Linked DNA regions of Homo sapiens. The protein of the gene in region 2 interacts with the protein of the main gene of each other region in a pairwise test. Each region holds a gene or a part of one and is shown on either strand. Other genes may lie near its edges.

What was found. Proteins that work in one complex are often made in the same cells at the same time.
Region 1: the proteins of FBXL17 (region 2) and HADH interact in a two-hybrid assay, tested with the Homo sapiens proteins (one large-scale study listed by BioGRID).

What each region holds. Positions count from the first base shown.
Region 1 is NC_000004.12:108,020,674-108,024,388, reverse strand, and holds part of HADH (hydroxyacyl-coenzyme A dehydrogenase, mitochondrial isoform 2 precursor), read right to left. Parts: intron 916-3,715; coding exon 826-915; intron 1-825. UniProt on the Homo sapiens protein: Mitochondrial fatty acid beta-oxidation enzyme that catalyzes the third step of the beta-oxidation cycle for medium and short-chain 3-hydroxy fatty acyl-CoAs (C4 to C10).
Region 2 is NC_000005.10:107,878,372-107,882,172, forward strand, and holds part of FBXL17 (F-box/LRR-repeat protein 17), read right to left. Parts: intron 2,809-3,801; coding exon 2,666-2,808; coding exon of another isoform or gene 2,492-2,665; exon of another isoform or gene 1-2,491. UniProt on the Homo sapiens protein: Substrate-recognition component of the SCF(FBXL17) E3 ubiquitin ligase complex, a key component of a quality control pathway required to ensure functional dimerization of BTB domain-containing proteins (dimerization quality control, DQC).

The sequences.
Region 1 (3,715 bases), on a different chromosome or scaffold from region 2:
GATACAAAGGATTACAGTTAAAAAAAAAGTAGATGACTTATATGTAAATCTTTGTAATGGTGTAGCATTTTGTGACACAACTACCCCTTAAGAAAAACTGCAAAGTCATGCATAAGTATAGTCCCCGAGTTTTGGGGGAACTAAAGAGGAACTAAAGCAAATGGAGAAACTGAAGGTAATCAAAATAATTACCTTCAGGTAGGTTATCATTTCAGCAACTGGGATTATTTTATATACAATAACTGGGCAGCTTAAGAAAGGGGAAAAAAAAGATGGAGGTCAAGCAGGCTTCCCACTAAACCATGCTGCTTCTTGAAAAACAAAACAACAAACAATAAAAACATAATGCAACTTCCCGGTGAGAAACAGGTTCCTTATTGCTATTTTGGCAGGTTGCTCTCTCACTGTCTTATCATTTATTTCACCATCTGTAGTATTTCTTGCAAAAGTAAAGCCCTCATTTTCTGTTAGGGAGGTATGTGTTTACCAAGCTGTACCTAAAATCATTTATGAAAATGCAGCCATTCATCAGGAGACAAAAGCCAGGACAGAGAGCAGTCCCGTGTCTTCTACTCAGCTGGTGTCCTGAGCTCCATTCAGGTCTCAGACTATCCACATAATGGCCTTAGGCATGGCTTAGGAGTCCAGTTTCCCTGTCTACAAACTAGAACAGGAGGCACGGATTGCTCTTTACAGCATGTGGACAAGCTTGCAGTATACAATGCTCCTTCTTTCACATCATTCTATGAGAAGAATTCTACCAGGAACAAGTCAGGGTCCAAGAAGAAAAGAACTACCTCCTTCCCAAGCTACCCATACTCTTACCTTGCAAGAAACAGGATGCTTTCCTAGGGCTTTGCTAAAGTCTACCAAAGATTCAAATGTCTTCTGGCTGGTCATTGGTGTTTTAATGACCTGGAAATGCAAAGCAGAGAATTATGACCAGAGTGTCAGCAAGCAACTTCGGTAGAATGGTTCAAGGAATGATTGATCAAAAGGCTCCATATAGGCAACAAAAATAGTTTGAGTTTCAGCATAGAAGTAGGAATCTCAAGCCAGAAACAATGTATTTCCCAAAATGACTATTTTAAAACAGAGGCCAAATGTGGTGGCTCATGCCTGTAATCCCAGCACTTTGGGAGGCTGAAGCGGGCAGATCATGAAGTCAAGAGATCGAGACCATCCTGGCTAACATGGTGAAACCCTATCTCTACTAAAAATACAAAAATTAGTTGGGCATGGTGGCATGTGCCTGTAGTCCCAGCTACTTGGGAGGCCCAGGCAGAAGAATTGCTTGAACCTGGGAGGTGGAGGTTGCAGTGAGCCGAGATCATGCCACTGCACTCCAGCCTGGGTGACAGAGCAAGACACCGTCTCAAAAAAAAAAAAAAAAAGACAACAGTGTACTGTAGAATGTACAAAATCACGGCTTAAAATACAAGTGTATGTGTGTACGTGTGTGTATAGGACAGTTTTACAGGCTTTGTTGTTGAGACAAGCCTGGGTTCAGTTGCACCACTTACTGGCTGTGTGACCCTGAGTATGTTTCTTGAAACTGAAATGACACTGAAATCACTCTGTTCACCTCAGGAAGTTGAGGTGAGAATGAAATTACATTGGGAGTAAAGCACAAAGCCTAAGCACAAATGCTCAATAAATGCTGACTTCCATTATTTAATTATTAGAAGTCTGGAAGTATATGATGGTTGCCCTTAAAGTCTTCTACGTGGGACCTGATCTTCTATTATAGAGGAGGAGGAGCCCCAGGAAAGTGAGTAATTTGCCCAAGTGACAGTTCTCCTGGATTCCTGAGTATTTCTCCCATGACTCCACCCTCTGCCACACAGATGCTCTAGAGGCCAGCGGCCCCTTGGCTTCAGAACAGACTCATCCTTCTGGGGAAGGCTTTCATTTACAGCAAGCGGGGCCTGCCACCTGCTCCAGCAGCCCTCCTGACCTCTGTGAGGTACAGGCAAGGGCACAAGGGCTGCCCTACTGGCATCTGTAGGGGATGGCACCAAGCACGATGCCCGGCACAGTCAGCCCTCAGTAAGCAGTTAGAGAACTCATGTGTAATGGTAAATGGAAAGAACCAGATGAAGTATATATATATATATTTTTAAACAGGAGAGATGCGTGTTTATTCACTCATTCATTCAACTATACACACACACACACACACACACATACACACACACATACACACACACACACACACACATATATATATGTAAAATGTAAAGGCCAGTAAAGAACTTCAATCGGAGTCAAAGGGTTTACTTTAGACCCTTCATGGGATCTTAGGCAACTGCCTCACCTCTCTTCTCTGGAATGGGGATCATGGGCATGTCTTCCCTGTGCAAGAGGGCCGTCTGACTCGGTGAACTAATGAGCTAGTGTCTGTGCAGGGATGAAAGGTGCTATATAAACAAAGAAGAGTTCTCACTCCTGTTTTCGTGTGATCACAGCCTGGGCCATGGTGTCATGTCGTGACATCAAGAGAAGTGAATGGATGGAAACAGGAAAAGACACAGTGAAGATGGAGAAGAGGAGCAGGACGAGAAAGACCAGAAGCCACCCTGCGGGTACCACAAATCAAACAGAATCCCAGAGCTGTTTGAAAGGAGGTCTAAAAAGTCTCCATCAAAACCACAGACTGAGCTGGGGGACAAACACTGCTGACTATGGAGTTTTCAAATTAAGTTTTTGGTTTAAGGGAGTTAATAATAGTGAAGGTTTGTTTCTTTTTAAACAGGAGAGATGGATGTTTATTCACTCATTCATTCATTCAACGAACAGTAATTTGTACAGATACGCTGCTCCTAGTTCCAACAGAGTCTGAAAAAAAATACATATATATATACATTTAAATGAGCCCAGTCCTAAGTAAAGGAGCCACTTAGCTTATTATACAAGTTATTTTGGTGTACACCACCAGCAACACAAGGAAGAGCTAAAGTTAAACAATAAAAACTGAATAGAGAAGAACACTTTTACAAAATACTTTCTAAAAAATAGTAGCATTTGCTAAACATCAGCTGTTAACAACCAACACACTACATTTCCAAAGACAAAAGCATACATTACCAGATAAATGCAGTTGAAAACATTATTAAAGTAAATCTACAGAATGTGCCTATCTCCAAAACACTTATATATACAATATAATAACTAAAGAAATCAACTAGTCCCTAAGTACTGAAATGTTGGAAATGCATGCCACTTCTTTGCTCTTAATCTGCATGAGATAAGAGCTGTTAAATGCTGTTTCTTCTGTTCCCCAAATCCCTCCCCTTCATTCTTCAATTTCTTCAAAAAATCAGCCTTAGGGGATAGGAGAAAATAGGAGGAAGCTGAGAAGCAATGTTAGTAAGACAGAAAAAGTCCCATTGCAAGATGGTCAAAGTTGTCACTTGAGAGAAAATGCTAAAAAAAATGGTCATTATTATGACTTATTAAAAATGCTTATGCTGAGTAGTGGTGAGGGAATGAGGAGGATAAAGGAAGGAAAAGGTAGTTGGAAAAGGCAATAATGAAGAAAACAGACGATACACACTCCCAGAGAGGCCACAGCCAGTGTGTGTAGGTTTGCCTGGCCCCACATCACCCACATGGCAGCATCAGCGTCCCCCACACTTCGCAGGGCAATAACTCCTCAACCTCAGAACAAATGCTACTTTAATAGCGGCTGCTCCTCAGACCCTGTAATTAGGAC
Region 2 (3,801 bases):
CATTTTATATATAATAGACATTATTCTAAGTGCTTTATGTATGTTAACTCATTCACATGCTCACAATTCTACAAGATAGGTACTAGTATCATCCTCATTTTGCAAACGAGGGAACAGGCACTGAGAGGTTAGTAACTGCCCGCGGTGACACAACTAGTAAGTGCAAAGCCCAGATCTGAACCTGAACTCTGGCTCTCCGCAGACCATACCGTTGCTACTAATTTCTTTTCTTTGTTACTCATATCTTCCTTTGAATCTTGATGGTAACTTAAAATCTGGAGATGGATGGCATGATACAAAATCTGAAAACTGAATAGCTACTTTAGATTTCCATCCAACTAAACCAACAAGCAGGCTTTTCTGTGCAAGGCTTTACTTGTGCTTTGTGTGTGGTTTGGAACTGTCTTCCATCCTCACAGAGCCTCTCGTGTTTGGCTCTGAGCTGCTTTAAGTCTGAGGAAGCCAGACAGCAAGGCTGGGTCCAGCATCTCCCTGGGCTGCACTGCAGCAGGCTCTGACCAGACGGCGTCGTGCTGGAGCCAATGGGTTCTCAGAGTGGCTCTCTGGTTAGAGAAAGGATTCAGAGGCAGCCCAGGAAAAGGGCTAAAACCCTCAGGGATACAGCTAATCTGAATACTGTCTCTATTTAATTTTGGACTAATTTGCATTTGGGTAGAAAATAACCCATTTCTTAACTAAAAATCAGCAAAATGCTGGTCAGCAAATATGTCTGGAATAACATTCTCCTGTAGTAACTGTAACATACAACTTCTACAGTGTATCTCCGAAGATGGAGCTGATCTTAACCATCTAAAGATTACAGGTTAGAAATATGACAATTTCTGAGAATGGCTGCGGACACATATGTATGAATGTGTACATTTTGGTAGCTTTAGTTAGCATTCATGTGGCAGTTCCTTCTGCTGGAAGCTGAGGAGTTCTGCTGTCATTGATTCCTGTTTCTAGAGGACTATGCCTATGGTGGACCCTTTAACTTGTCTTAAAAGAAGTCATTTTAAAGTGGCAGGGTTAGCAGCGGCATTAGGTTGGTTAGTGGAAAGATTTGTGGGAGACTCGCAAGCCCCGGATCTCAGTGCTGTTGCTTAGTTACAAAGTAAGTCGCTTCTGGGCTGGGCTGAGAATATATAATAACATTTCTCTAAACATAACTAGCTGGCAAAGGTCTCGTATAAGTTGGGATTCTAAAGTGTTTGGAGAAAAGAATTAGCCAATTAACAAAAAATCACAAAGGACACAAGAGCTTTGGGCCATACTTCATTTGCCCCCACATTTGCTACATTTAGAAGATGCATGCCCTTTGAATGGCGTGTCTATTTAGTTTCACATTATTTTGCTAGATTTGTTCCTAATCACCATTTACAAAAGTAGCACACATGTGTAAATTAGTACAAGATGGCGGCACTTTCTGAGCAAGTATCTGAACTGGACCTTTTCCAAGGGAAGCAGTCCCCGTGGCCACAGACTGCCCCCTGGGTTGTGCCAGCAGCACTGGATACAGACTCCAAAGACCCGGCATGAAGTCTTGCCAGAGTATCCTGGGGCCACTGACTGGTCTTTCTGAGCCTCCATTTTCTCCCCTTCACAATGCAAATAACTATTTCTTAGACTTGTTATAGGTAAAACATGGAATAAACAAAGAAGAAAACACCTGTGGAGTGCCTGGTGTCCAGTATAGGTTTTTTTTGTTTGTTTGGGACACAGTCGTGCTCCGTCATCCAGGCTGAGGTGGTTGCGGCACAATCACGGCTCACTGCAACCTCGGCCTCTTGAGCTCAGGTGATCCTCCCACCTTAGCTTCCCGAGTAGCTGGGACTACAGGTGTGTGCCATTATGCCTGGCTAATTTTTTTTTGTTGGGGGAGAGGGGGATAGAGACAGGGTTTTCCCATGTTGTCCAGGCTGGTCTCAAATTCCTGGGCTCAAGTGATCCTTCTGCCTTGGCCTCCCAATGTGCTGGGATTACAGGTGTCAGTATAGATTTTTATTATCTGTTTTCTCAGTCTTCAAAGGGTCCCACGTTAAATGCTACACCATTTCCTAAACTCATGCTCACATCCCTGGCTGGTTCTACAGGCCTTCCACCAGGACCTCTGGAACCACTTCTTATCATGTGCTGGGAGTGGCATCTGATGTATGGGGAGATGCAAATTCCCACATACCCCCTTACTGGCCCTTTGTTGGTCCCGAATGGCCAGAATACATAGATGTTCAGTACCAAAATTACACACTTGTGAAAAACCAATTTGGCACTGTTCTTTCCACCTTTACTGTTGCTGGAAACTTGAAACCCAGAATACAATTTTACGGTTAGACCCTGCAAATTGCAGTTTGTCATGTAATCTTTTACATTTTGGTCCATGGACTTATGAATAGGATGCCAAACTCTAGTTGACTATGTATATGATTACTTTTTCTTTCTACTTAAGCACAAAATTCATTATTAAGTGGGGAAATACAAAGATAATCTCAGATTAGTTTACAAAAGCAGGCAAACAATGCATAGCTATAATTGCATATATACATATAAAATGTATATATAATATATAATACACGGGGGTGGAGATAGAGAAGGAGAGAGGATATGACATCAAGCTATTAACTATACTGATATGTAGAAAGCAAACAACTTGATAGTCAACTCTTACTTTATCACATCTCATCAGCCCCAAATATCTCAGAGACTTGCTGCTCTGTGCAATCAGGGTGGCTCCTTGGTCTGTGATTTCTTTACACCATCCGACATCCACAGTCTCTATTGTCATGCTGTATCGCCCAATGGCTATCAGTGCTGCAAGAAGGGACGCAGAGAAAGCATTAATGTTAGCAGTGTAAGGGAGCTCTATCTTATTATGACTATTCATCTCATTTCCTCACTAAATTTGTTCCTGAAATTTTGTGTGTAAATGAACGTTTTATAAACTAAACTAAATTTGAAATGCTTTAGGAAAGCTTCCCTATGACAAACCCATTTGCAAAGTGAATAATCATTCCATAATTTCCCTTTCATTGAACACAACCTTTTATCAGTTTTATTCATTACAAGGTTACCTGTACTTTCAAACATTCAGCTCTGCAGAAGGAATAAATTAAAATGTATTACAGATACAACATTTAAAAAAACCCAAGTACTAACTTAATTTTACCCAAGATAACTTTAATTTTTTTTTAAAGAAGAACCCACGTAAACACCATTTTGAGGAGTGTTATACTGCAAGTGAATGTCTTTACCAATTGGCATAATTTTTTCCATCTGTTCATGACCTGTAAAATGTAAAAGTATAAAATATTTTTCACATTAGCGCTTCTTGGGACTGTTAGGAATTAAGAGTACATCATACATACTGCTGATTTTAATTGGTGCCATGCTAGAGTGCAGTAAACAGAATGCATTTGTTATGGTGAATTTCCTCATCCTATCAGAAGTCTTCCTTCTATTAACATACAAAATGAAGCCTGTCGTCTGTAAACTATGAGAGTATCTGTAGTCTTCTCGGCTGTTTAGCATTGTACCACCACTAAAGTGCAGACACTTATCCCATAATCTATGATGTGCACTACTAATCACTGCAAAGTCCCATAACCCATCACCCCATCACAGCGACCAAGTGGTGAATGTGGCTCTTTTCTACCGACTTTGATAAATGTGCCCACCTTTATATTTAAGGAGCCCAGAAAACAAATTTCAATACCCCAGCACCAGTTTATGGTGCACTGGTTTGTGAATCAAAACCCTGAAAACAGTGCCACAAATATCAAAAAGAAAAGAGAAATGGTTTTCTGA